Linked DNA regions of Homo sapiens. The protein of the gene in region 4 purifies or fractionates together with the protein of the main gene of each other region. This does not show direct contact. Each region holds a gene or a part of one and is shown on either strand. Other genes may lie near its edges.

Region 1 (6,197 bases), on a different chromosome or scaffold from region 4:
TCTGGGCACAGGTCTTAAAGACTGTGGGCAAAGCTCACTGTTTTTTCCCTTCTCTTTGACTGGAATCTTAGTTTACAGGGTCTCAGTTGCACTAGCTACATTTCATATGCTCAGTAGCACTTTTGGCTAATGGTTACCATATTAAGACACAGCAGACATAGAACATTTTCATCATTACAGAAATTTATATTGGATAGGAGCACCCTAGAGAGAATATCTACAATCTGTCAGATACCCCAGAATCATTACAATAAATCACCTCTGTTACTTAGGCTAATCAGATTTGATTTTACTATATGCTTTCAAAAGGAACTCAGTTATTATATATCTGGCACTATAACTATACCTACTAAACACTAAACCAAATCTGATGGGGCAATTCTCAGGCTTATTTCTATTTGACCTTTATCAGTTTTTTACCTGGTCAACCATTTCCTTGGATCTCTTCTACCCCTGACATTCTCTCATAAGAATTGGTATGCTGGCAGGCCACGGTGGCTCACACCTGTAATCCCGGCACTTTGGGAGACCGAGGTGGGTGAATCACGAGGTCAGGAGTTCAAGACCAGCCTGGCCAACATAGTGAAACCCCGTCTCTACTAAAAATACGAAAATTAGCTGGGCCTGGTGGTGGGCACCTGTAATCCCAGCTACTTGGGAGGCTGAGGCAGGAGAATCGCTTGAACCCGGGAGGCGGAGGTTGCAGTGAGCAGAGATCGTGCAACTGCACTCCACCCTGGGTGACAATGTGAGACTCTGTCTCAAAAAAAAAAAAAAAGAATTGGTATCCTCCATAAAATCTCTTACCAATATATACTAAAGACAGATGACCCTTAAAAAGTGCAGAGAGGGTGAAAGGGAGACTGATGCTTATTTTACACATTCTGTGTTCCCAAGCCTCCCATCGAGCTTCTGAACCACGCATCTAAATTGTTCACTAGATAGCTCCAGAGGCATCGCAAAATGGATGTGCTTCAAAATGAAACTATTCCTCATTCAAAACCTAGCTTAGTTTTGAACCTTCCCATCACCCAGATAGAGAAAATGGACCTGTGCATACTGCGATCATGGTATTTATGACTGCACTGTAACTTAAGTGTGTGTGACTCTCTTTTGAATAGGGACACCATCTTCCCCTCTTTATACCTAGCATAGTGTCTGACACACATAAGTGCTCAATGATTTTTATTTTAGCAAATTGTAGTCATTTCCATACATTATTTTTTACAGTAAACATTGCCGGATACATTTCCATACGTTTTTAAAGAATAGAGGAGGAGGAAGAGGAGGGAAAAAAAGGAAAATAAATAAATAAACGTGTGGAGCAATCAACTCCAGAATCACACCAATATTTCTAGGTCTAATGGCCACACAGCAAAATCAGCCTCAGTTATCCCATTGTCTTCATATCTTAAGACCTAAAAATGGGAACACAGGATTGTGGGAATAGGTTAGGATTTCTCAGTTTCCAAATTTTTCTGTGAGACTTTTATGCTAACTCTAGCACGGCTTATGTAAAATGTTCGTGATTTGGGGGTGGATCTAAACCACCTCAGATCTATAACCTCTGAGATAAGTGGGGCTGAGCTGCCAGAATGCCATCCGCCATTTATCCCACCCAGAGACACAGGGGTAATTGTGGTTCTGATGCAGCCAGTTCGCCTACCCTGTAACGCTTATTTGCTAAAATAAACCAACCTAAGAGCTAGCCATCCAATGCAGAGGGCAGGGCCATTTTCGGTGCAGAACATACCTGGCCTAGCCAAGGGTGACAGGGTCCTGCCTTCAAAAACAGGCCAGTCACATGAAAGAGTGAAGATGGGCGCATGTGGAGGAGGACAACAGGCCACTGCCTGAGGCCTTCACATTTAAGCTACACAAAAATGCTTTTCCAGGTGAGCAGAGCTCTCGGGCTGCCTGCTTGTGACCCCTGCTCCTGTCAGTCACGAGAACAGGGCGAAGGAGGCGAAAACAGTGCGGAGAATAAGTCCGTAGGACAGTGAGTTCGGAAAATGCCTTCTTCAGTGTTCCAAGGTGCCCACGTGAACTGAGGAGGGCAGAGCAAAACCCCTTATTTTCGGGTCTGTGCAGGGTCCCCGCTAGGAAGGGGCAGCCCTTGAGTTTCATGTTGGTCGGTTATTAAGCGGCTCCCCCGTGAGCCCCGCCCAATGCCTGTGCGCTCAAACTAGCAGCGTCCGAGGAACGCGTTAACTGGGAGAAGTGAACTGAGGGGGTCCGGCGGCCGCTGAGGAGGGGAGCGCGCGGGAGGAGGGGCGAGGAGCCCGGAGGCGGGCGCGGCTGGCAGCTTAGAGGGCCCGGGCGGAGGCCTGAGAGCAGGGCTGGAGGGGCGGAGGACCGGGGAGACCCGCCCGCGGCGTTCCCGGCCGGTTCTGAGCAGGCGCCGTGGCAGCGCCCGCGCCCCCTGCCCGCCCTCCGCCGTCGCCAGGACGCAGGCTCGCGTCAGGGCTGGCGGTAGGGCCCGCAGCTGTCGGCCTGGCGTCTTCACCCCGCGCAGTCGGCCTCGCCTAGCCTTCTCGCGCCTGACTGGCCGGACCCTGCCCCTGGCGGAGGTAACTGCCCGCGGATTCCTTACCCCGCGATCCTGGCCTCCTCGTAAGCTCCCCGGACCCGGGCGTCCTCGGTCTCCCCTCATCTACTCTTCTGTCGGGCAGGTCCGCGACCTTCCGCCTCCCGGGCCGTCTCCCGCCGCACCCGGCCCTGGTACATCCCCACTACCCAGTCCGGGCCCGTCCTCGCTCTGGGCCTACCCCAGCCTCCCAGCGTCGCCTGCTGACGGAGCGCGGGAGCCCCAAGGGGCCGGGGTCACCCGGCCGGCGTGGGTGGTGCCAGGCTCGGGCCACACCTCGGCACCGGACCCGAGTCCCCCAGCTTCTCGAGCAGGATCCGGAGGAATAGAACGTCAATTTTCCTCGCTCTTAGCAATTTTAAGATTGACTAATGGATTTAGGGTATGTCAGTGCATAAAGTTCCCAGTATTTTTTCACTCAATAATTTTAGCAGCGCTGATACTATTGACTGGATTTGTTATTTCATTAGGAGCTGCAAATGATGCTTTTCTAATGCCGGCGTTTCTCTGGCATTTGGTTAACCCTTTTGTGAGAATTTATTTTATTTGCAATTTTATTTATTTATTTTTGAGCCGGAGTCTTCGCTGCGTTGCCCACGCTGGAGTGCAGTGGCTCTCACAGGCACAATCACAGCTCACTGCAGCCTCGAACTCTCTTGTCCTCAAGCGATCTTCCCATCTCAGCCTCCGTGCTGACTGATAGCTAGCATCTTGATAGATCTTTGTGTGCTGTCTCTGAGTAGTTTTTCTTTTAAAGCTATTTTATTAAAAAAACAAAAAAACAAGCCCATCTAATTTGGCCGGGCACAGTGGATCACGCCTGTAATCCCAGCACTTTGGGAGGCTGAGTCGGGCGGATCACCCAAGGTCAGGGGTTCGAGACCAGCCTGGCCAACATGGTGAAACCCGGTTTCTACTAAAAATACAAAAAAATTAGTCCGGTGTGGTGGTGCATGCCTGTAATCCCAGCTACTCGGGAGGCTGAGGCAAGAGAATCGCTTGAACCCGGGAGGCGGAGGTTGCAGTGAGCCGAGATCGCGCCACTGCACTGCAGCCTGGGCTACAAGAGCAAAACTTCAACTCAGAAATAAAATATAAATCAAAACTTTATGAAAATTGTCAGTTAAGATCTTCAGTGGTCCATGCGCAGTGGATCGTGCCTGTTATCCCAGCACTTTGGGAGGACGAAGTGGATGGATCACTTGAAGTCAGGAGTTTGAGACCAGCCTGGCCAACATGGTGAAACCCCATCTCTACTTAAAATTAGCCAGGCGTGGTGGCACACGCTTGTAGTCCCAGCTACTCGGGAGGCTAACGCAGGAGAATCACTTGAATCCGGGAGGCGGAGGTTGCAGTGAGCTGAGATCATATCACTGCACTCCAGCTGGGGCAACAGAACGAAACTCTTGTCTCAAAAAAAAAAAAAAAATGCCCAGTGAATATTATGCATCATTTATATTTTATTACTATTATTGTTTACAGAATCTTGGGACTGTTTTACTTAATTGGTCATTGATAGCTTAACAAACATGGAGATAAGATTAGAAATCTTGACATCAACAGGTATTAAGCAGAAAAAACCATGGCCACGTGTCTCCTGGTTGGGAAAGGTAGGTTTTTCTTTATTCATGCAATACCAGTTTTATATATGTTATATGTGTGTTTTGCCTGTAATATAGGAGTGTTCTATGATCTTAAATAAATAAAACATCATCTACTGGAGGAGGATCTACAGGAGGATCACCTACCTGCACACTGAACAGGGTTTTGTGTGTGTTTCGTTTTTATTATAATGAGCAAGTTAGCTTTTCCAGAATGTTAAGTGGTTTATTTAGAAGATTTTTACTTAAACTATTTTTTTCATATTATGTTTAAGTCAAGTTTAAGTTAAGTTGAGATGGCATATATCAAAAGGGAATATTTAATGTCCTGAGCTTTCCTTTACTGGAACAGTTAATGGAGTGTTTCCTCCTATTGTGGTTTTCATGATTGTGCTATGAAGTGTTCTTGGAAACTAGGATGGAAGAAATGGGCCACAATACGTTAGTAATCCAGGAATGCCATTCATAATATATGGCATAGATTCCCCACTTAGGGAAAGTAGGCAACCCTACTTTATTTGTGATGATTATTGAAATAAAGTGTTAAATTTCCTGTGAGAAATTATACCACTAACTCCCCTGTAACAGGAGTTCTCAAACTATCAGAACTATCTGGAGAGGTGGTTAAAACACAGATTGCTGGGCCCTGTTCCCAAAGTTTTCAGTTAATTAGGTCTGCTGTAGGGTTGGATATTTTGTATTTTTTTATTTTTATTTTTTGAGATGGAGTCTCGCTCTGTTGCCCAGGCTGGACGCAATGGCATCCTCTCGGCTCACTGCAACCTCAGCCTCCCAGGTTCAAGCGATTGTCTTGCCTCAGCCTCCTGAATAGCTGGGATTACAGACGCATGCCACCATGCCCAGCTAATTTTTATATTTTTAGTAGAGGCTAGGGGTTTCACCATGTTGGTCAGGCTGGTCTTGAACTCCTCACTTCTGAGGTGTTGCTGATGCTGCTGGCTCAGTTATACCTTGAAAATCACTGCCTTAGAATATATGAAAACAAAGTTAACTCAAAACAGCCTACTTTTTCTAGGTAATAAAAAATGAGCAGAGTCAGGGATTTATGAATTTCAGAAGCTATATCTATTTTAATCTAAGTAAATAATTTAAAAACTTGCTCATACTACTGTTAAAATTGATGAGAGTCAGGTTCAGTGGTATGCACCTGTGGTCCCAGCTACTCAGGAGGCTAAGGCAAGAGGATCGCTTGAGCCCAGGAGTTCTGGGCTGCAGTGTGCTATACCGATTACGTGTCTGCACTAAATTCGGTATCAATATGATGACCTCCCGAGATCAAGGGGCTGGGGTAACCACCAGGTTGCCTAAGAATGGTGAACTGGTCCAGGTCAGAAATGGGCCAGGTCAAAACTCTCATGCTTATTAGTAGTGGGATAGTGCCTGTAAATATCTACTCCACTTAAGGCTGGGCAACAAAGTGAGACCTCAGCTCTTAAAAAAAAAAAAAAAAAAAGATTAAAAAGTAGATAAGCCAGTTTTGGCTAGCAGAATTAGAGGACACTCCTATAATTTTAAACTTCAAAGAAATTGAAATACAACTACTAGGTAGCCTTACCTATTAATTCTAACGAGGTATTTTAAAACAATTCAAAATGTTCAGGCTACTATAGAGTATTAAGCTTAATGTTCATTTTATGATTTGTGGTACAAATGGATAATCTTTCTTAAATGTCGCTTTGATTTCTGGGATAATTTATTTAGGCAGTAAGTTGAATTAATTTCTGGCACCTCTTGAGTCCTTCACATGTTTCTTCTCTTAGGAAAAAGAAGCCGTTTTTCTTTTGGATGATAAATTCATAAATGAAATTAATTTGCTATCAGGAAAGATAAAGAAGAAAATTCCTAGTCTGCAGCCTTTCTTGAAGGATGTTATTGTCCTAACAACATCCAGTAATGGTTAAGTAGTACTGATATTTTCAAATGGCTAAAACTATATTTTTTAATAACTTAGGGTGATGTTAAAGGAAATACTAGATTGTAAGTATTGC
Region 2 (5,553 bases), on a different chromosome or scaffold from region 4:
GATTCTTTGAAACTTGGTGGCGGCTGAGGGAAGCAGTGAGCAGGAAGGCTCAGATTCCTGCCCTCTTTTGCTGCCACCACTTGTTTCTCCCCCTGCAACGTAGGTGGTGATGGACATCTATGAGCTCGAGAACCCTGAAGGTGTGATCCTATCCATGGGTGGACAGCTGCCCAACAACATGGCCATGGCGTTGCATCGGCAGCAGTGCCGGGTGCTGGGCACCTCCCCTGAAGCCATTGACTCGGCTGAGAACCGTTTCAAGTTTTCCCGGCTCCTTGACACCATTGGTATCAGCCAGCCTCAGTGGAGGGAGCTCAGTGACCTCGAGGTGGGCTGGGACCTGGTGGGTTACCCGGAGGCTGGATGATGCTTGGGGGAAAGTGTGAACAACTCAGCTAAGCTCCCTGCCTCCTGTAGTCTGCTCGCCAATTCTGCCAGACCGTGGGGTACCCCTGTGTGGTGCGCCCCTCCTATGTGCTGAGCGGTGCTGCTATGAATGTGGCCTACACGGATGGAGACCTGGAGCGCTTCCTGAGCAGCGCAGCAGCCGTCTCCAAAGAGCATCCCGTGGTCATCTCCAAGTTCATCCAGGAGGCTAAGGTGGGAGGCTGCAGACAGTGAAGTCTCTGAGGGCATGCTGCCAGCCCTGGAGGAGACTTCCTTCTCTGGTCCAGCAGAATCATAGGCACCAGGGCTGGGAACAGTGGGCTATGTGGGGCTCGTTAAAGGAAGAGACAATCCTAGAGTAAGTGAGAGAAGAAAGTGGCCCTATGTCCCACTGTCTGTGTCCCCCCGCTAGGAGATTGACGTGGATGCCGTGGCCTCTGATGGTGTGGTGGCAGCCATCGCCATCTCTGAGCATGTGGAGAATGCAGGTGTGCATTCAGGTGATGCGACGCTGGTGACCCCCCCACAAGATATCACTGCCAAAACCCTGGAGCGGATCAAAGCCATTGTGCATGCTGTGGGCCAGGAGCTACAGGTCACAGGACCCTTCAATCTGCAGCTCATTGCCAAGGTAATAAGGCTAAAGGAAAGAACTAAAGGGCCACAGCTCTTGCATGTTCTGTGCTGGCCACAGTGCCATGAAGCCCTGCACTGTCTCCTGCCTTCATCCAAGTAGGCAGGGAAGCTGGAGGGAAAGGGCTGTAGCTAGAGCTCATGGTGTTGGGGCTTATGACAGTCAGTGACCCTGAACCCTGCTCAGTCTGATCCCCCAGAGCTGAGGACGGAGAGGAAGAGTCTAGGCCTATAGATAGTGTCAGCAAGGCCAACCTGCAGAAGGCCTGACCAGTCTTCTCTGCCCCAGGATGACCAGCTGAAAGTTATTGAATGCAACGTACGTGTCTCTCGCTCCTTCCCCTTCGTTTCCAAGACACTGGGTGTGGACCTAGTAGCCTTGGCCACGCGGGTCATCATGGGGGAAGAAGTGGAACCTGTGGGGCTAATGACTGGTTCTGGAGTCGTGGGAGTAAAGGTAAGGAATATCGAAACCCTTGGGGTTAGCAGAAAAATAGCGGGAGAGAGTTCACTCACCACACAGAGTTGTCAGTATGTAAACCAGGCACTGACTGCAAGGCATTGCCGGATCGTGGGGGTAATGAGGTGGTCATTGTCCCTTAAGAGCTTACTTTATGGTAATGGGAGGGAAGAGAAGTTGGATCCCCAAAAAAGCTTTGGTATAGAACAGTCCGTGGTAAAACTACATATTCGACCTGTAAACAGAATGCTGCAGGAGTTCAAGAGACAGGAGGTGCTGCTTCCAAAAGGGGTGATCTGGGAAGGCTTGAGCGAAGGGGTGCTATTTGAATTGAGTTTTGAAGGATGGTTAAGGTTTTTTATTTGCAAGGGCACATCCTAAGCAGAAGCTGAGGGATGACCCCAAGTACGTTTGGAAAGCAGGAGGGCACACAGAGAGGGCAGGCTGACCCTGCCATTCAGATGGGATCAAGCACAGGGTACTGTGTCCGTCTCTGCTGGTGAGGGAGGAGGTCCTCTCACACCTTGGCCCTCTCTCTTCCCTCCCGCCCCTTTAGGTGCCTCAGTTCTCCTTCTCCCGCTTGGCGGGTGCTGACGTGGTGTTGGGTGTGGAAATGACCAGTACTGGGGAGGTGGCCGGCTTTGGGGAGAGCCGCTGTGAGGCATACCTCAAGGCCATGCTAAGCACTGGCTTTAAGATCCCCAAGAAGAATATCCTGCTGACCATTGGCAGCTATAAGGTATCAGAATCCAGGAGGGCTTCCCGAGGGCCGTGGCTCCCTGGGCCAGGGCTGACCTTGAAATGGAAGACAGGAAGAAAACAATTTCATCCTTCTGTTTGGTTTCAGAACAAAAGCGAGCTGCTCCCAACTGTGCGGCTACTGGAGAGCCTGGGCTACAGCCTCTATGCCAGTCTCGGCACAGCTGACTTCTACACTGAGCATGGCGTCAAGGTGCAGGAACTCTGGCAACCTACCCCACTGCTGCCCTTCCCCAAGGGGGTGAAAATACTGCACCAAAGAATTATCTGGGCTGGGCACGGTGGCATATACCTGTAGTCCCAGATACTCAGGAGGCTAAGGCAGGAGAATCTCTTGAGCCCAGGAGGTAGAGGCTGCAGTGAGCTGCGAGTGTGCAGTGAGTGCACCACTGCACTCCAGCTTGGGAAACAGTGAGATGCTGTCTCAAAAAAAAAAAAAACAAAGAATTATCTCCTATTCCCCTGCTTTTATTATTACCATTATACTAGTAAGCTATATTCCATGCAGAAAGCAGAATACACAGGAAGCAAAGAGAAAAGTCTCTTAAAATCTCTGTACCACTGTTCTGATATTTTTCCTTCCAGGATTTTCTCTGTGTACATGTGTGTGAGCTCATACTGCACCTAGTCCTTGGTAACCCATCTTACTTAGTGTAGATATCTTTCCTGCCAAGAAATACACTTTGCCAGTATCAAATAGAGGCAGCCCTCAGTGCCCACCCTATGGGTCCTCAGTCTCCTCATCATGGGCTCCTGGGCCAGCTCCTCTCCCTTAAGGCTAGCCTTCCTGACCGCTGCCAGACAGCTTGGCCCTGACCTTGACTCCGGGTTGGCAGGTAACAGCTGTGGACTGGCACTTTGAGGAGGCTGTGGATGGTGAGTGCCCACCACAGCGGAGCATCCTGGAGCAGCTAGCTGAGAAAAACTTTGAGCTGGTGATTAACCTGTCAATGCGTGGAGCTGGGGGCCGGCGTCTCTCTTCCTTTGTCACCAAGGGCTACCGCACCCGACGCTTGGCCGCTGACTTCTCCGTGCCCCTAATCATCGATATCAAGTGCACCAAACTCTTTGTGGAGGTAACTGAGACCCATGTGCTGGGAGGGAGACTGCCAGTGTTGATGGGAAGAAGAAAGAGGGAGGAGTGAGTATGGAACAGCCATGCTAGTAATAAAGCTTTGTGGCTACAGAGGGAGAGATGGTGGGTATAGAGTGTGCAGAGCCTGGTTTATGGGAAAACCACATCTCTCCCTACAACTCCCAGGATCACCCTTCCCTTAAAGCTGACTGCTTTCCACTTGCAGGCCCTAGGCCAGATCGGGCCAGCCCCTCCTTTGAAGGTGCATGTTGACTGTATGACCTCCCAAAAGCTTGTGCGACTGCCGGGTAAGTCTTTGGGGAGAACTTGGCTTCTGAACACTGGCAGCCCCTGGCATAGAGACCTGCAGTGTGGTGAAGGATGGCTGGGGGGCCCACTCTTTGTCCTGGACTGCACAGACTGTGAAGACCCCAGAATGTTTCTCACTCTTTCATTCCTTAATCCACAGTGTCCACAGTGGCCTTGTCTGAGGAATTTTTTTTTTTTTTTTTTTTTTGAGACAGAGTCTTACTCCATCGCCCAGGTTGGAGTGCAGTGGTGTGTGATATCGGCTCACTGCAACCTCCGCCTCCCAGGTTCAAGCGATTTTCCTGCCTCAGCCTCCCAAGTAGCTGGGATTACAGGTGTGTGCTACCACACCAGGCTAATTTTTGTGTTTTTAGTAGAGACGGGGTTTCACCATGTTGGTCAGGTTGGTCTCGAACTCCTGATCTCAGGTGATCTGCCCACCTCGGCCTCCCAAAGTGCTAGGATTACAGGCGTGAGCCACCATGTCCAGCTCACCCTTCCTATTTCTGAATCTTCCTGTAATCTTGCTGCTTCCATTTTCTCCCAGGATTGATTGATGTCCATGTGCACCTGCGGGAACCAGGTGGGACACATAAGGAGGACTTTGCTTCAGGCACAGCCGCTGCCCTGGCTGGGGGTATCACCATGGTGTGTGCCATGCCTAATACCCGGCCCCCCATCATTGACGCCCCTGCTCTGGCCCTGGCCCAGAAGGTGAGCCACTGCACTCTTCCTGGTATTGGAGACCCATATGCCCCTACCAGCCACCCTTGCTTCCCTGAGCCCTTTTCCTTCTGCCCCGCCCTATGGGCCCAGGCCACTGGTGCCAGGCTAGCCTGTGTGGGCATGGGTGCCAGTGAGCCTTACCTCTGTGTATCCTCTCCAGCTGGCAGAGGCTGGCGCCCGGTGCGACTTTGCGCTATTCCTTGGGGCCTCGTCTGAAAATGCAGGAACCTTGGGCACCGTGGCCGGGTCTGCAGCCGGGCTGAAGCTTTACCTCAATGAGACCTTCTCTGAGCTGCGGCTGGACAGCGTGGTCCAGTGGATGGAGGTAGGGAGTGTGCATGTGGCAGGAGGCCACCACCCAGTGTCTCCTGGCTTGTGGGCCCCTGCCTAAGTGGGCTGGTAGCAGTGAGGATTCAGGGGAGCTCCTGGGGACTCTGGGCTCTGATGAGCACAGTCAGAGATTCTGCACACTCCTTCATCAGTTCTTTCTGCTCCCAGCATTTCGAGACATGGCCCTCCCACCTCCCCATTGTGGCTCACGCAGAGCAGCAAACCGTGGCTGCTGTCCTCATGGTGGCTCAGCTCACTCAGCGCTCAGTGCACATATGTCACGTGGCACGGAAGGAGGAGGTAAGAGTACACCTGAGATCCTGCTGTCCCTGTTGCTTTCCCAGTAACACCAAAGGTCAGGGTAGTCCTTAGGGGCAGGAGACAGCAGGAGGAGAGTCTGGAGACAGCAGGAGGAGGGTCTCGAGCCAGCACCCTTGCAGGTCTACATCATCATTTTTTGAGCAGGGATGTTGGCCATTGGGACTTTGTGTAGGGCAAGGCATATGGGTGGTGCCTCTTCTGGATCTTCCCATTGTTCCCCAGATCCTGCTAATTAAAGCTGCAAAGGCACGGGGCTTGCCAGTGACCTGCGAGGTGGCTCCCCACCACCTGTTCCTAAGCCATGATGACCTGGAGCGCCTGGGGCCTGGGAAGGGGGAGGTCCGGCCTGAGCTTGGCTCCCGCCAGGATGTGGAAGCCCTGTGGGAGAACATGGCTGTCATCGACTGCTTTGCCTCAGACCATGGTGAGAGAATCCAGCATGTACCTCCTCTGCCCAGTGGGGCTTGTGGGACAGCCCTAGCAAGAAAATGGGAAGCAGGCCAGGCCTCAGGACTCTACTAGGACAGGGTCTTGATCCGTATGGGACCCTAGC
Region 3 (5,529 bases), on a different chromosome or scaffold from region 4:
CACTGTCAACAGGTCTGTGAAAACCTGGCAGTCAGAGGTGTCAAAGTAAAGGCAGGAGCATCAGGGTGTGGAAACCTAGAGTAAACCTAATCGTTCCTTCGCCCAGAGCCGTGGTTTGGCTGCAGTTGGGATATCTATGGTTTTGGCTGGAGACTGACCCCAGGAAGCTGTGAAGCAGTAGCTCAGAGCTTCAAGTGGGTCAAAGTGTTTTCCTGAGAACAGGATGAAAATGTGGGGACTCCAGAGTCTGGCAAGCCAAAGGCAGTGCTGTAGTACAATCTAACCTGCAAAATCCTGGCAATGTGGCATAGTCAAGGGCTCGCTGCCTCAAGCCAGAACATTAAAACAAGCAGGCAACAAACAGTTTTTTAATTTTTCTTGAAATGGAGTCTCGCTCTGTCGCCCAGGCTGGAGTGCAGTGGCGCAATCTCAGCTCACTGCAAGCTCCGCCTCCCAGGTTCATGCCATTCTCCTGCCTCAGCCTCCTGAGTAGCTGGGACTACAGGCCCCCGCCACCATGCCCGGCTAATTTTTTTATTTTTATTTTTAGTAGAGATGGGGTTTCACCATGATAGCCAGGATGGTCTCGATCTCCTGACCTCGTGATCCACCTGCCTCGGCCTCCCAGTGCTGGCATTACAGGCGTGAACCACTGCGCCTGGCCAACAAACAGTCTTAACACAAATAAAATAACGACTGGGAACAATGATGTAGCCTGCCAGAAGGCAGGTAACACAACCAGGATGAAAACAATCAGGTAAGCGCAGTATGCTTGCCCAACCCATTCACTATCAAGAGAAACTGGCTGCTTGGGAGACCTTTCAAGTAAGTTAGGTGACTTAAAGCAGAACTCCTCTGTACCCCACAAATCCTTCTGTATCTGTCAGCAACAGCCAGTTAAGCATTGACAGGCTGGCGGTCCCTCTACCTCCCCTCGCATCCCCGCTTCTGTGCTTTGTCCATAACAGACAGTGGTGCTGCTGGCACAGACTGAGACACTGGGTAAGCAAACATGAAAGCAGGGGAGGCCGGGCGCGGTGGCTCACACCTGTAATCCCACCACTTTGGGAGGCCAAGGTGGGCGGATCACTTGAGGTCATCAGGAGTTCGAGACCAGCCTGGCCAATATGGTGAAACCTCGTCACTACAAAAAAAACAGTAATGAGCCGGGCGTGGTGGCACATGCCTGTAATCCCAGCTACTCAGGAGGCGGAGGCTGCAGTGAGCCAAGACTGTACCTCCAGCCTGGGCAACAAAGCAAGACCCTGTCTCCCAAAAAAAAAAAGCGGGGAAAAGATCGGGCTGCGCACCCTGAAGGAAGAGACAGGAGGGTGAAGTTCAGGAAGACAAGATGGAAACATTCTTATATCCAGATCTGGGTGGTGCCTGCACAGAGCACACATACAATACTTCACTGATAAGTATGCTTAAGACCTGTGCCATTGCCTTATATAACCTACACCTCCATGAAAACCCAAAACAAACAGGCCACAAGCTCCCTGTTTGCTATCCTTTATTAAAGGGCCCACATCCTCATGGGACTCCAGCCAAACCAGTCAGGTCCCCCAAATATAGCAGGAGGCCTGGAAGGGGAGGGGAATGACTTATGATCCTACCATGCCTCCCAAGAAACAGAAACCACCACAGACAGACAGACAGACGGACAGGGGCTGGGGAGAACTTGCCTCACTCTCAGTCCTCTCCCACTTTCCCCCACTTGAAAAGAAAGTCAAACACTGGCTACGCAGCACCCCAGCCCCCCACCCCACCCATAGCAGCGTTTGTGGGACACACCCCCTTTGCAAGGGGTGGCCCCGAGGCAGCTTCCTATCTCTCTCTTCACTTTGGTTTGCTCCTGGCAACTCCGTGCCCTCTTCCTTTCCTCAGCCTCCGGCTCGGTCTCCCCCTTGTCTTCTATCACCTACTCGGACCTTCTCTCTCATCTCCTGGGCCTCCCTGCCCCAGCACTTCTGGGGAAGCAGCGTCTCGGGCGTCTTCCCTTCTCCTAGCAAGGGGCCCCACCAGGCCCTCTGCCCAGGATGTGGGACTCACACAGCTGCCCCACTCTCCTTGAGGTCAGGGGCAGAACGCTGCCGTCTCATTCGTGGGGGAGTAGTGTATGGGGGGTAGCGGGGCCCTGGGGGCCGCTGGGCTGGGTAGGGTTGGGGTGGCTGGGGATAAGAGTTGTGCTTTTTGGGCTGGAAGTGCTGGGGTTCAGGCTGTGCAGAACCCGCTCCCCGGGATCGGCCCCCTCCATCCAGGGAGTTCCTGCGGGGATGGTGGGACCTTCGGGGACTCGGAGGCCGGCGGGCAGGGGTGGCTGGATGGGGAGTGACCTCCTCAGGGGGTTGGAGCGGAGTTGGAGCCTCCCCGCTCCCCATCCCTGGCCAAGACTCCCGGTGCTGGGGGTTGCTCTTGAAGGGGAAGCGTAGCTTGCAGTCGTGAGGGGGCACAAAGCGGGCTGGGGGCCTGCGCAGCCCCCCGCCCCGGCCCCCAGAGCCCTGCAGTCCCTGCAGCCGTAGCTGCTCCTGCTTGAGCCAGCGAAGACGACCACGACGGAAGGCAGGGTCCTCCTCCATGAGCCGTGACACCCGCTCCCAGCTTGACAGTGGTGGCGAGGGGGGCCGGGCTGACGGCATGCGGTCACTGGGGGCTGCCTCCTCTGCTGCCTCTGATCCTTCAGGCGGGGCCCAGGGGACCTCACCACCTTCTTCATTCTCATCCTCATGATCCTGGGAGGGAGGAGTGAGAAAAGGAGAAGGGATGTGAGGAGAGCTGAATCCTCAGGACATGTGGATTCAAGAGGGACCTGGAGTGGCTGGATGTCAAAGGGTCCAGAGAAAAGCCTAGAGATAAGGAAGCTCGAAAAATAGTGGTTTAGGGCCGGGCGCAGTGGCTCACGCCTGTAATCGCAGCACTTTGGGAAGCTGAGGTGGGCGGATCACAAGGTCAAGAGATCAAGACCATCCTGGCCAACATGGTGAAACCCCGTCTCTACTAAAATACAAAAAAAAAAAATTAGCCGGGTGTGGTGGTGCGCGCCTGTAGTCCCAGCTACTCAGGAGGCTGAGGCAGGAGAATGGCTTGAACCTGGGAGGCGGAAGTTGCAGTGAGCCGAGATTGTGCCACTGCACTCCAGACTGGCAACAGAGCAAGACTTCACCTCAGAAACAAAACAAAACTGCAAACTTTATATCAGTGGGTCTTAGACTTCACTGTATTTCAGAAACACCCAGAGCTTATTATAAATGCAGATTTGTCCCCAAAGATGTGGATTCAGTAGGTCTGGGGTGGAACCCGGGAATCTATTTTAATTAGCAGCCTGGTGACAGCGAGGCATGTGGTTCGTAAACAATATTGAAAAAAACGTACTATACTTCAATGCAATTTTTTCCAGACTTGGGGAAGGTTAGGCTCTGAGATGGAAGGTTCAGACTCCTAAAGTGAAGAGCCGAGGGAGGAGAGAAGGGAGGCAGAAGGCCAGTCCTACCTGGGCCAGGGGGATGACCCTCTCCATGCGGAGCATGCGGTCCCGCAGGGCCTGCAGCTCCCGGTCCTTGCTGCTGTTCTGCAGCTTCACCTCCTGCAGAATCCCCGTCAGCTTGTCGATGTGGGCCCGGAGGTCCTCCACCTCCGCCCCTCGGGCTCCCTCCTCACTGCCACCACCACTGCCAGCTCCACCTCCTTCCTCCTCGCCTACAGTGTCCCAGACATCCCGGGCCACAGCCCTCCAGGCGTCTCCGGGGCCGTCTGGCTTGCCATAGGTGCGACACAGCTCCCGCATCTTGAGGGCGGCCAGGGCCTCAATCTCAGCCCGCCCGTGGCGGAAGTCAGCCAGGGCCACCTCGTAGCAGATCTCCTTCACCGCCTGCATCTTCAGGTCAGCCATGGTGGCCCAGCGGGGGTCTTTGCCCTGCAGCCTGCGTCGCTGGGGGATCTGATAAACCCTGCGAGGGGCCCTGCGCTTGCCACTGCTGGGCAGACCACAGCGTTTGACAATGGTCTGGACCGTGGTGGGCGGCAGCTGCTCCCGCAAGGAGGAGATGAGCCTCCAGCTCTCTTCACAAGAGCGCTTGTCAGAGTCATCCCCGCTGTCCGAGTCTGCATACTGGGGCCAGAGAAAGAAAGAGGAAGAGAGGGCTAAGGACATCCAGAGCCCATGTGTCTTGGCCCAGTGTGTCCTAAGTACACTGGAAACACGCCCATCAGGGAGCCTGGGTTCAAGTCCTGCTCCACCCCAACAGCGCACCCTTGGGCAGACTGCTTAACGCTGCTCTTCTAGACAACAGAGATAGTGACGGGATCTACCTCCCAGATCCACGTGGAGTACTTAGAACCATGGCCGGCACCGAGAAAGTTACCATAAGTATTAGTTGTAGCTAATCGAGTGTGGAACTTTGTGCAAGACTTAAAAGACCATTGAGGGGTGGTGGCTCGTGCCTGCAATCCCAGCATGTTGGAAGGCCAAGGCAGGAGGATCACTTGAGCCCAGGAGCTGAAGACCAGCCTGGGTAATGTAGTGAGACCCCCACCTCTACAAAAAATAAAAAATGTAGCCAGGCATGGAAGTGCACACCTGTGATCCCAGCTACTCAGGAGGTTGAGGTGGAAGGACTGCTTGAACCCAAGGAGTTCGAGGCTGCAGTGAGCTATGATCAGGCCACTGCACTCCAGCCAGGGTGACAGAGCAAGATCCTGCCTCAAAAACAAAATAGAAAGTCCATGGCCGGGTGCGGTGGCTCATGCCTGTAATCCCAGCATTTTGGGAGGCTGAGGCAGGCGGATCACCTGAGGTCAGGAGTTCGAGACCAGCCTGGCCAACATGGTGAAACCCTGTCTCTACTAAAAATACAATAATTATTAGCCAGGCATGGTGGCGGGCTCCTGTAATCCCAGCTACTGGGGAGGCTGAGGCATGAGAATCGCTTGAACCCAGGAGGCGGAGGCTACAGTAAGTCGAGATCATCCCACTGCGTTCCAGCCTGGGTGACAGGAGACTCCATCTCCAAAAAAAAAAAAAAAAAAAAAAACCACAACAATCTTAATACCAACACAGGTGGTACTTGGATATGGTGAAAATCATAAACTTGGCACGAGAAACTGGAGTATGGGAAGGCCTGGTCAACTGGAGGAATCTTCCTTCCTTCCTCACAATGGATTCTTCCTGTAGTCACATCTCTCTCCTGGCTTTTTCCTCTTGGACCCTTCCCCTTACCCCCATGCCCATTTCCCACTCTGGCTCAGCGGTGAGCACTGCACTCGGACTCAGGCTTGCGGCTCATCTGCCCATCAGCCCATCCCCAGCCCCTGCTGCCCCTCACCAGTCGCTGCTGCTCCAGCAGAAGATCGGCTTCTTCCTTTTCTTTCCGGTACTGATTCTCCAGATCCTGCAGCCTGGGATTGGACAGGGAGGGAAGGAAGAGCAACCTTGGTGAGTATCTGACAAGAGGAGGACACGGGCCCAGAGGCCCGGGAGGGACGGCCTAGACGGCCATGGGGCACGTGGGTAACCCCCTCGCACCTCTTCTC
Region 4 (5,553 bases):
TATGTTTTTCAGACCCCTGAATTCCAGCAACCAGTTTGAAGTCCCCCACAGAGGAACGGGATCTGCAAGAGAATACAGCTTCTTCATCTCCCTGTCCCATGACTTCATCCTGTACTCTTTAACAAATAAACAATTGCCACACTTCGGCCCACTTCAAAACCCTTAAAAAACCTTAGCCCCCATCTCTTACGGGAGATGAATTTGAGGTTTTCCTCCATCTCCTCATTTGGCGGCCCTATGATTAGACCTTTCTCTGCTGCAACCTGGAGTCTCAGCTTATTGACTTGCTGTGTGCATTGGGCAATGAACCCATTTACAGTTACAGAAGGGAGAATTAGTGAGTTAACGTTTCATGGGTACAGAGATTCTGTTTAGGTGATGAGAAAGTTCTGGAAAAGGATAATGGAGATGGTTGTACAACATTGTAAATGTAATTAATGACACTGAACTGTACACTTAAAAAATGGCTAAGATGGTAAATTTATGTTATATATATTTTACTGCAATAAAAAGTATTTTAGAGAAAGACACATTAGAAAGAAAGAAGCTGGAAATGGTACATAGAGACAACTCTATGGAGTTGTTTTGGTCCAAAAAAAAACAAGACATGGGAAAGTATACCTATTAATAAAAGAAACAATAGGGGCTGGGTGTGGTGGCTCTTACCTGTAATCCCAACACTTTGGGAGGCCGAGGCAGGCTGATCACTTGAGCCCAGGAGTTCAAGAACAGCCTGGGCAACAAGGTGAAACCCCAACTCTCCAAAAAATACAAAAATTAGCTGGGCATGGTGTCATGCACCTGTAGTCCCAGTTACTCTGGAGGCTGAGGTGGGGGGATCATCTGAGTCCAGGGAGGTCAAGACTGCAGTAAGCCATGATCACACCACACTGCACTCTAGCCTGGGTGACAGAGCGAAACCCTGTCTCAAAAAATAAAATAAAATAAAATAAAATAATAGAATAAAATAGGTTGGGCGCGGTGGCTCATGCCTATAATCCCAGCACTTTGGGAGGCTGAGGTAGGTGGATCACTTGAGGTCAGGAGTTCAAGACCAGCCTGGCCGAAATGGTGAAACTCTGTCTCTACTAAAAATACAAAAATTAGCCAGGTGTGGTGGCAGGCGCCTGTAATCCCAGCTACTAGGGAGGCTGAGGCAGGAGAATTGCTTGAACCCGGGAAGCAGAGGTTGCAGTGAGCCAAGATTATGCCACTGCACCCCAGCCTGGGCAACAGAGTGAGACTCCATCTCAAAAAAAATAAAAATAAAATAAAATAAAGGGGAAATAACAGAGCCAAAATATTTGGGTTTTTTTTTTCCTTAAAAGAATTTTTTTAACATGTTAATGGTAATACTTAGTAGTGAAAATACAATGTAGAAAAGAGAGGGGAGAATTTCTTAGGCAATGCCTATTAGTAGGCAAGTGGAAATGGAATGTACAATATAAACAGAAATAATGGACTTAGGAGCATGAGTAGTTGATCCATAGTACAAGGTATAAAGGCCAAGTAACTGGGTAAAGATGTGTGTTGATAGCTATTTGTAGTAATGGAAGTCTGCAGAAGTTCTCTTCTGCTTGCTTCAATTTTCTCAGTGAATTGGGAAGCAATTCATTAATTACTGACAATGAGGACTAGTGAGGAAATACTGGGATTTGATGAGAGAAGAAAAGGTACAAAATACTCTCTTGAGGGAGTGAGTGAAACAGGGAAATATGATTGCTTAGGAGCATTATGGGCTCATATTTTTTGAGACAGGGCCTTGCTATGTTGCCCAGGCTGCTCTCAAACTCACAGCCTCAAGCGAGCCTCCTGAGTAGCTCGGGCTACAGGTGCATGCCATTGTACCCAGCTATCAATTTTACTGAAGATAAGCAAACAAAAACTATATATGTGGGTGTGTGTATATATAATTTTAATATATGTATTTAAGGTGTGTGCATAATATATGTATATGCACAGAAAGAGTCCAGAAGTATACATACTGAATTGTTAATAGTGGTTATTACTGGAGAATGTATGTGTGGATACATACACACATGTGTGGCTGGGGGTAGAGGTGAGGTGGAAGAGAATCCTATGTTATTTGAATTTTTAACCAGCATATTATTTTTGGGATTCAAACAAAATATCTTAATATAAGTTAATAAATAGCTTGAAAGGAGAATTTAGAACAGTGTTCAAGATCCACAGCACCTTTATTAGGCAAATCCTACATCCTAATTAAACACAACTATCAACCTGCAGTAAATGTGACCACAGCAAGACAATATGAGAAAAGCTGAAGACTCACTCACCTTGAACACTTCAGAAAAGAAGCCAGACCCTATTTTTTCACAGGTGAAATCATCCAAACGCGTCAGTCTGGAAAAGGCACTTATAAGAGCTCGATACGAAGATGGCCAAACTCTTCCCACCTGGCTCACATTTCCTTCTCCTCCACCACCTCCTTCAAACTCTTCAAGACGCTCCACACGTGGAGGAAATCCTGCAATTGAATTCCGTTTGCTCCGATCCATAGTCTAAATAATCACTTTTTTCTTCTTTTAAGAAGGAACTCCACACATAAATTTTTGTTGAATTTTACTTCTCTTCTGGTTTGACACTAAAGAGATCAAAAAAATTTCCACTGAAATCTTTAATGAATAAATACATGTAAAGCAATAAATGCTCAATGCAAAAATATTTCCTTTCACATTCTAGTTCCTGGTTTTCAGATCTAAAAAATGTTTTATGTCTTTACCCTCAAATAACACTGATATATTTAAAGCCCAAGATATAGTCAGTCTTTACCATGAGTAGAATATCATGAAGATCACCAATTACATTCTAAGTAACAAAATAACAATGATAATATCTATCATTCATTGAGCACCTACTTTCTAGGAAACATAGTATAAGAGCTTGACATACATCATCTCGTTTGATTCTCAGATAATCCATGATATAAGGATTATTATGTTCATTTCACAGAGAGATCAAGAAATCAGTCACTAAAAGGCAGAGATAAAATGGAAGCTGGGTGCAGTGGCTCACGCCTGTAATCCCAGCACTTTGGGAGGCCAAGGCAGGCGGATCACTTGAGGTCAGGAGTTTGAGACCAGCCTGGCCAACATGGTGAAACCCCATCTCTACTAAAAATACAAAAATTAGCCAGGCGTGGTGGCAAGCACCTGTAATCTCAGCTACTCAGGAGGCTGAAGTAGGAGAATCACTTGAACCCAGGACGCAGGGGTTGCAGTGAGCCGAGATCGTGCCACTGCACTCCAGCCTGGGCAACAGAGTGAGACACTGTCTCAAAAAAAAAAAAAAAAATTGAAGTGCAAAGCCTGTCTGATTCAAAAGCCTGTGCTTCTTTCTACCAATCAATACCCTTTATAGCCTCATATAATATTTTATTTCAAAAATTAATTCCAAATATATAAAACAAACATTACAAGGAGACTTCAAAATTATATATTATATAATTTTTAAAAAAGAAAACTATATCCAAAAGCAATCTAAAAATTCACTGTTGATGAAAAAGCACAGTCCAGTAGAAGTAACTATAGAAGGCTCCATCCCATCTGGTACATAACTAAGAATAAAAGCACAAGCCTACTTTTTCTTTTAGCCTGTCTCTCCCTCTTTCTACTTTTTTCCATGAGACTCAATTGTAAGGGTTCTATGCAAAATACAACATTGTGACTCCTCAATTAGTGAAATGCTTTCATAAAGGAGGTGGATACCTACTCAGTTTACCACCACCACTTCTAACCAGCTCTGCAACTCAGAAAAGTGGCAGGAATCCCAGGGCCATCTTAGTAACATGAGTCTGCCTCCTTACCCATTGCCAGAAGTCAGCACCGTACCCAGTGTGTACAACCACAGTTTCTTTCCTGGCAATGTGCAATTGGAATTAAATAGTCCAGTCTCAATATGGCGGCTTTCTAAAATAGAAGCCATGTAAACTCAGAAGCTGCTGGCCAGGGGCATTTTCTATAATACTGCCTGGAAGGCAGAAGAAGTCAAGAGATTGAGGCCAATTTTCAAAGAAAAAAAAAGGAAGGGAACTTTTTGAATTCCCTATTCTGCTCTAATCCCCAATTCTTAAGGCCTAACTGCATCCTGAGGTTCCATGAGATCTACCTGAATCTAGTTAATCTAGTTCTACCACAGTCTTCAAAAAAGGAAGAATACTCTGAGTTCCCAAATAACAAAACATTTAAGTACCTCTATTGAACCTATGCCAAAAAGTGGCATCAGCACCACCAGACCAAATACTTACATCCACAAGAACAAAAATTTAGGGTTAGCTGGCCACAGTAGCTCATACCTATAATCCTAACACTTTGGGAGGCCAAGGCAAGAGGATCACTTGAGCTCAGGAGTTTGAAACCAGTAAGGGCAACATAGTGAGACCTCGTCTGTATGAAAAAATGTAAAAACTAGCCAGGCATGATGGTACACGCCTGTAGTCCCAGCTACACAGGTGGCTGAGGCAGGAGGATTGCCTGAGCCCAGGAGTTTGAGGCTGCAGTGAGCTGTGATAGCACCACTGCACTCCAGCCTGGGCAACAGGGCAAGACCTTGTCTCAAAAAAATTTAGGGTTATAAGACAAAAAATTTGCAGCCACAAAAAAGAATGAAATCATGTCCTTTGCAGCAACATGGATGCAGCTGGAAGCCATTATTCTAAGTGAACTAACACAGAAACAGAAAACCAAATATCGCATGTTCTCACTTATAACTAGGAGCTAAATCTTGAGTTCACATGAACATAAAGATGGGAACAACAGACACTGGAGGCCCCCAAATGGGAGACAGGCAGGGGCTGAAAAACTTCCTATTGGGTACTGTGTTCACTATCTCGGTGGTGGGATCAACAGAAGTCCAAACCTCAGCACCACACAATATACCCTTGTAACAAACCTGCACACATACCTCCTGAATCTAAAATATAAATGGAATTTTAAAAATAAAATAGAGGCTAGGCATGGTGACTCACGCCTGAAAAATCCCAGCACTTTGGGAGGCCAAGGCAGGCAGATCACCTGAGGTCATGAGTTTGAGACCAGCTTGGCCAACATGGCAAAACCCTCTCTCTACGAAAAACACAAAAAAATTAGCTGGGCGTGGTGGCAGTCACCTGTAATCCCAGCTACTCGGGAAGCTGAGGCAGGAGAATAGCTTGAACCTGGGAGGCAGAGGTTGCAGTGAGCCGAGATCATGCCATTGTACTCCAGCCTGGGCAACAAGAGTGAAATTCTGTCTCAAAGTAAATAAATTAAATAATAAAAATAAAATAAAATAGGGTCGGGTGCAGGGGCTCATTCCTTTAATCCAAGCCCAGGCTGAAGTGCAATGGTGCTATCACAGCTCACTGCAGCCTCAAACTCCTGGGTTCAGGCAATCTTCCTGCCTCAGCTACCTGTGTAGCTGGGACTACAAGCATGTGCCATCATGCCTGCCAGTTCAAGACCAGACTAGGCAACACAGCAAGACCCCTCATCACTAAAAAAATAATAATAATTTTAAAAACCAAATTTTCTTAATTTTAGAGCCAGTAGAAAA
Region 5 (5,553 bases), on a different chromosome or scaffold from region 4:
AGGATCACGCCAAGATGACGGGTGAGGGCATCACCAGCCACTGACGAAAGGAAAGCCAGCACCCGGGTGTTGACAGGTGGCGTTGTCAGCTGGTGGAATGACAAACATTAACTCAGTGAATACTGTGCCAGGTGCTGCGCTAGGCTCTGGGAACAGACGGGTGGGCAAGAGAGCCCAAGCCCACTGCTCAGAGCCAAGCATCTACTCCAGCATATCTTGGAAGACAACAGGGGAAGGATGTAATGCTTGCACTGCACCCTCCTCCCCCAGCCCTCCAACATCTACGTTCAGAACTGGTCTTCACTGCAGGCCCTGGAAATGTCAATGCCCTGGAGCCAGAGGGTGTTGACCACATGTTGGGATTTACCTTGGGCACAAGGTAGGGCAGCACCACACGACTCTTAATAGCCATGACTTGCTTCAGACCATCCAAGGCAAACTCTGACACCTCCTCGTCATCCTGCAGAGGGTGTTGGGGACAACCCTGAGGAATCTGCATCTCTGCTGTCTCAACCAGCCACCGCCAACTTCCTTCTCCACTTGTTTCCCTCCCTCCTGTTGCACCCACATTTCCTCACTGCCGAAGGCGAAGCACAAAGCCAAGTCTGATCTTGCTATACCCACTCCCTCTGGAGGGCCCACATTGCGACTGCCTTGGCAGAATAATCGCCCTGTATTTTCCATCTACAAAGACGGCAAAAGCCAAACTGGTAGGTAGGTGTGTGGTAGATCCACTCACCAGCTGCTTTAGTAAAAATGGGAGAATGTCCTCCAGAGCCTGGTGGCCGATGGTGGAATGCAGCTGCTCGAAAGTCTTGGCTGCCGCCTCTCTGACCTCCTCCAGTGGGTCACACAAAGCCTTCCTTGCCGTGGGCACGAGGGATTCAGAGAAATACAGCACCTGCAATGGCAAGCTACAACTGTACCAGATGCAGGAAAGGCAAAGAAGGAGCAGAAGCAGACAAGAAGCACAGGCAGGGGACTCTGACCCAGCTAGGCCACCCTAACTCTCTTTGCCTGACTTGTCTTTTAACTTAACTCTTTACTGTGAAATAAAAAAAAGGAGAGAAGGGGCCGGGCACGGTGGCTCACACCTGTAATCCCAGCACTTTGGGAGGCCAAGGTGGGCGGATGACTTGAGGCCAGGAGTTCGAGACCAGCCTGGTCAACATGGCAAAACCCTATCTCTACTAAAAATACAAAAATTAGCTGGGTGTGGTGGTGCACACCTGTAATCCCAGCTACACAGGAGGCTGAGGCACAAGAATCGCTTGAACCCAGGAAGCAGAGGCTGTAGCCAAAAGAGATGGTGCCCCTGTACTCCTGCCTGGGCAGCAGAGTGAGATTGTCTTAAACTAAAAATTTTAAAAAAATTAAAAAGTAGAGAGGGGCCGCGCACAGTGGCTCACGCCTGTAATCCCAACACTTTGGGAGGTGGAGGCAAGAGAATCACTTGAGGCCAGGAGTTTGAGACCAGCCTGGGCAACATAGTGAGACCTCACCTCTACTAAAAATGCAAAAATTAGCTACGTGTGGTGGTGCACACCTATAGTCCCCAGCTACTCAGGAGGCCATAGCGAGAGGATCACTTGAGCCCAGAAGGTCAAGGTTACAATGAGCTATGATCGCACCACTGCACTCCAGCCTGGGTGACAGAGTAAGACCCCGTCTCAATAAAAAAAAAAAGCAGAGAGGATGTGATGCACCCCCATGTATCCTTCACTGAGACTTAATAATCAACAGCTTGAATCTTTTAGGTGAATTCTCAATATACCTCCCATCTTCTCTAAGAACTGCAAACTCCTTCCCATGGCATCTGGCCCCCTCTCTCCCTGGACTCTTTCTTTTGCTTATTCTCTTGGAAAACTCCAAGTCCTTCTTCAAGTCTCAATCCAGACTTTGTGCTCTATGAAGTCTTTGGGTCTACAATGGAGCCAATAATGGCTCTGCTCCCTCAGTAACGATCCCAGCACAGCAAAGCCCACTCTGCATTCTAATGACTGGTTGGCATGTGGGCCTTGCCATTGGACTGTGGGGACTTTGCAGACAAGAACTCAGCCTCTGTGGAACTCTACCTCTCCAATGAATCACAACTCTTTCTGATGACAGAATTTCTTTTGATTCCTTGCCAAATGTAAATTTTAAAAACCAAACGTAAGACAAACATCAATATAGGAGAAGAGGGATCTGGTATCCTAGGAATTCAGACAAGGATGCCCAAGCCAAGCAACTGGCCACTTGCTTACATTTCTAGCGGGCCATCCACTTAATTGCTTTGGCGTTTTCATCCAAACACGAAGGCAGTGCCTAAAAGCACTCCTAACCTACTCCCCAGGGTGGTCTCCAGGATCATTTAACTCAGGAACCAAGTAAGAGTAATGGACTTCACACCCCTTGAACGTTGCTGCTATGGAAACAGTATTGTTGCCAGACGCAATATGCTTCCTCCCACCTGGCACCACAACTCTTACCTGCTCCCCTCCTGCTAAGGGTGAGTGCACACCCCCTCCCGCACCCTCCTGCCCTACCCACTCACACAGCTGTCCATCCCCTTTCCCAGAAGGAGGTGCACACATTTTAACTGGACTTATATAGCATCACAAAAGAGACTGATCCTGAGCAACCTCCACAGTTGTAAGAGAGCGATCATCTCCAGTTTCCAAAGGCCACTCAAGGAGGCATCCAAATCACTTAGCTCTTAGCCTGCAAAACTGACAGGAAAGCTGAGAAGACGGAGCCTCAAGTCCATGTGGCCCAGCCAGCACCTCCCCAGAGTGAGACTGGCTCATCCCTGAGGGCAGCACAAACCCCCTAGAGGTGAACCTCCTTCAGTAGCCCTCCCCCGCCCTCTGAGTCAGGTCGTCTGCAGTGCACAGCTGGCGGGATCCTTGGAAGATACTCACGGCATCCCGGCTGGTGGACTTCATGATCTCACTTAGGCCAATGCACACACCCTGCCTCTCATCGCTCTTCTGAGACCTCAGGCCTTCCTCAAGGATGGGGATGATCTCGGGGAGGATTTTCTCCCCTAACTTCCGCACAAGATCTCCCAATGTTCTCGCTGCAATCTGTCAACAGAGACCAATCCAGGAAGTAAAGTCCCTGCAAAGCCCAGGGCACCCAGAGGAGGACTCCAGAATGAGGGCCCTGAAACCTCCCAGGCTTTATCTGAATCACTGACTTAACTTCCCCAAATGCTCTTACCCCTAAAGAGCCCCCAAATACTCTCTGTAGTGCTTGCAAAACACTACCAAAAAATTATCTGTTTCACACACACCTACACAACCTAACATTAAGAGCCAGCAGCACCTTACACATGTACAAAAAATTCATCATCTGCTGCACAGTCAAGGGCCAATTTCCCTGGATGACTGAAGCCTTAACACTGTGCTATGGCTGAGCAGGAGCCGAATCTGGAACAAAGCTTTAAGGAAAAAAAAACATCTACTTTCTGAGACCTCATGCAAACCCTTCTTTAGAGCCAAATACACAATTTGCTTGCCAAGGATGGGGGGTTGGAAGTAGACCAAAGGAGATGGGCAGAAATGATCACCAGCCCATCTGGGCACCTCCTCCAGGCCCACTGATCTGTCTGCCCCTGCCAGCGCGCCAGCCTGATCTCATGCCGCACTGCTCCTCCCTGCCTCCTCACTCCAGCCACACTGGCCTTGCTCAGCCCCTACTGGTGCTATGTTCCTGCCCACCACGGGACCTCTGCATATCCTGTCTTTGTATCTGAAACATTATTTATTCCCTCTGTCTGGAATGGTCTTTCGCCACCTCCTCACCTGGTTAGTGCTTACTTATCTTTCATCTTCCAGCATCATTTCTTCTGAGAAGTGTTCACTAACACAGGCCCATCCCTCCCCAGCAGGTCAAATGCAGCTATTATAAGCATTTGCAGTGCCATGCAGCACTGGCCACAGTCGCATTTTACATCTCTTTGTGTGGTTATTTGATTAATATCCATCTCCTCGACTAGACTACCTCTCATGAGGATAAGGAATGAAGCTGCCTTTCTTCTCCATTGTGTCCCCAGGTGCTAGGCCCCTGCTTAGTGCACAGGAGATGCTAATAAATATTTGCAGAGGCCAGGCGTGGTGGCTCAAGCCTGTAATCCCAGCACTTTGGGAGGCCGAGACGGGCGCATCACGAGGTCAGGAGATCGAGACCGTCCTGGCTAACGTGCTGAAACCCCGTCTCTACTAAAAATATAAAAAAATGGCCAGGTGTGGTGGTGGATGCCTGTAGTCCCAGCTACTCGGGAGGCTGAGGCAGGAGAATGGCATGAACCTAGGAGGCGGAGCTTGCAGTGAGCTGAGATCACGCCACTGCACTTCAGCCTGGGCGACAGAGCAAGACTCCACCTCAAAAAAATAAATAAAATAAAATTAATCAAAAAATATTTGCAGAATGACTAAGTAAAGAACACAATGTCCCTCTGTTAGGCAGGGTGGATGGGTACTTTCCCAGGCTCTGCAGACCCAGCCTTCTAGGCTCTGAAAGGAGGCACTGGGGCTGCTGGTCCAAAACAAGGCCCAGGAAACTCACCGTTCTCTTATCTGCACACGTGCTGGCCAGGAAACCCAGCAGGAGCCCAAAGAGAGTGGGTAGGATCTCACGCAAGGTGCGGGGGGTATTGGAGACAACAATCTTCCAGACATGCAGGGACGCCTGCCGCACCACCAGCTGGGTGTCTGAGCGGCCCATGTACAGCCCTGCCAACACCCGGTTCCGCCGCTCTACCCCCAGGGCAGTGATGATCGCCTGCAGCCAGTAGAAGGGGACAGAGAGTAGTGAAGCCTCTATGGCATGGGCATCAGGGCACACCCTACCATCAGCAGGGGCAGGAAAGCCACTGCAGGCACCTTGTTGGACTGGGCAGTTCCAAAGTTATCATCCTCAGAGGCAGTTTCTGTGGTCATCTTCCCAGTGACTCCTGAGATGTGAAACAGGAGATCCCCAAGGAGCTGAACAGAGCTGAACCTGAGAAGGAGGCCAACAACACAGTCACACAGCTGCAAGGAGTGGGCTCGGCACAACTGAGCACTGCACAGAAGATGGAAAGAAGTGCACCCAAAATACTCATGACGGTCATCTTGGAATGGGAAGAGTCAGGTGGTTTACATTTCTTTACACTCGCCCACATATTTTCCAAGTTTTCTACTAATGAACATACATTAATGTTGAGGGAAAAAAACTTTTTAAAAACATGTAAAAATTTCTATAACAAAAGTTATAAAAAATAAAGTGAGTACAAAAGGGGAAGCATTAACAGGCAAGTAGGAAGACTGATCATCAGAAGTGGAGGAACCAGGAGAGGCCTTAAAGGATAAACTATTTCAGGCCAGGTGTGGTGGCTCACGCCTGTAATCTCAGCACTTTGGGAGGCCAAGGCAGGCGGATCACCTGAGGTCGGGGGTTCGAGACCAGCCTGACCAACATGGAGAAACCACGCCTCTACTAAAAATACAAAATTAGCCAGGCGTGCTGGCAGGTGCCTGTAATCCCAGCTACTCGGAAGGCTGAGGCAGGAGAATTGCTTGAACCCGG

What was found.
Region 1: the proteins of TESK2 (region 4) and CPLANE1 purify together in Homo sapiens (affinity purification with mass spectrometry; one large-scale study listed by BioGRID and IntAct). This does not show direct contact.
Region 2: the proteins of TESK2 (region 4) and CAD purify together in Homo sapiens (affinity purification with mass spectrometry; one large-scale study listed by BioGRID and IntAct). This does not show direct contact.
Region 3: the proteins of TESK2 (region 4) and KIF1C purify together in Homo sapiens (affinity purification with mass spectrometry, with the first as the bait; one large-scale study listed by BioGRID). This does not show direct contact.
Region 5: the proteins of TESK2 (region 4) and GCN1 purify together in Homo sapiens (affinity purification with mass spectrometry; one large-scale study listed by BioGRID and IntAct). This does not show direct contact.

What each region holds. Positions count from the first base shown.
Region 1 is NC_000005.10:37,245,618-37,251,814, reverse strand, and holds the start of CPLANE1 (ciliogenesis and planar polarity effector 1), read left to right. Parts: upstream 1-2,438; 5' UTR 2,439-2,570; exon of another isoform or gene 2,571-2,969; intron 2,970-4,069; 5' UTR 4,070-4,116; coding exon 4,117-4,197; intron 4,198-5,969; coding exon 5,970-6,105; intron 6,106-6,197. UniProt on the Homo sapiens protein: Involved in ciliogenesis. Involved in the establishment of cell polarity required for directional cell migration. Proposed to act in association with the CPLANE (ciliogenesis and planar polarity effectors) complex.
Region 2 is NC_000002.12:27,233,209-27,238,761, forward strand, and holds part of CAD (multifunctional protein CAD), read left to right. Parts: intron 1-103; coding exon 104-328; intron 329-417; coding exon 418-600; intron 601-799; coding exon 800-1,018; intron 1,019-1,309; coding exon 1,310-1,477; intron 1,478-2,036; coding exon 2,037-2,219; intron 2,220-2,327; coding exon 2,328-2,432; intron 2,433-3,075; coding exon 3,076-3,315; intron 3,316-3,540; coding exon 3,541-3,622; intron 3,623-4,170; coding exon 4,171-4,337; intron 4,338-4,509; coding exon 4,510-4,674; intron 4,675-4,847; coding exon 4,848-4,979; intron 4,980-5,222; coding exon 5,223-5,424; intron 5,425-5,553. UniProt on the Homo sapiens protein: Multifunctional protein that encodes the first 3 enzymatic activities of the de novo pyrimidine pathway: carbamoylphosphate synthetase (CPSase; EC 6.3.5.5), aspartate transcarbamylase (ATCase; EC 2.1.3.2) and dihydroorotase (DHOase; EC 3.5.2.3).
Region 3 is NC_000017.11:5,020,671-5,026,199, reverse strand, and holds part of KIF1C (kinesin-like protein KIF1C), read right to left. Parts: coding exon 5,522-5,529; intron 5,395-5,521; coding exon 5,322-5,394; intron 4,109-5,321; coding exon 3,491-4,108; intron 2,733-3,490; coding exon 2,049-2,732; 3' UTR 1-2,048. UniProt on the Homo sapiens protein: Motor required for the retrograde transport of Golgi vesicles to the endoplasmic reticulum. Has a microtubule plus end-directed motility.
Region 4 is NC_000001.11:45,455,267-45,460,819, forward strand, and holds part of TESK2 (dual specificity testis-specific protein kinase 2), read right to left. Parts: intron 2,606-5,553; 5' UTR 2,520-2,605; coding exon 2,298-2,519; intron 1-2,297. UniProt on the Homo sapiens protein: Dual specificity protein kinase activity catalyzing autophosphorylation and phosphorylation of exogenous substrates on both serine/threonine and tyrosine residues. Phosphorylates cofilin at 'Ser-3'. May play an important role in spermatogenesis.
Region 5 is NC_000012.12:120,137,956-120,143,508, forward strand, and holds part of GCN1 (stalled ribosome sensor GCN1), read right to left. Parts: intron 4,987-5,553; coding exon 4,869-4,986; intron 4,768-4,868; coding exon 4,552-4,767; intron 3,069-4,551; coding exon 2,904-3,068; intron 902-2,903; coding exon 740-901; intron 461-739; coding exon 368-460; intron 90-367; coding exon 1-89. UniProt on the Homo sapiens protein: Ribosome collision sensor that plays a key role in the RNF14-RNF25 translation quality control pathway, a pathway that takes place when a ribosome has stalled during translation, and which promotes ubiquitination and degradation of translation factors on stalled ribosomes.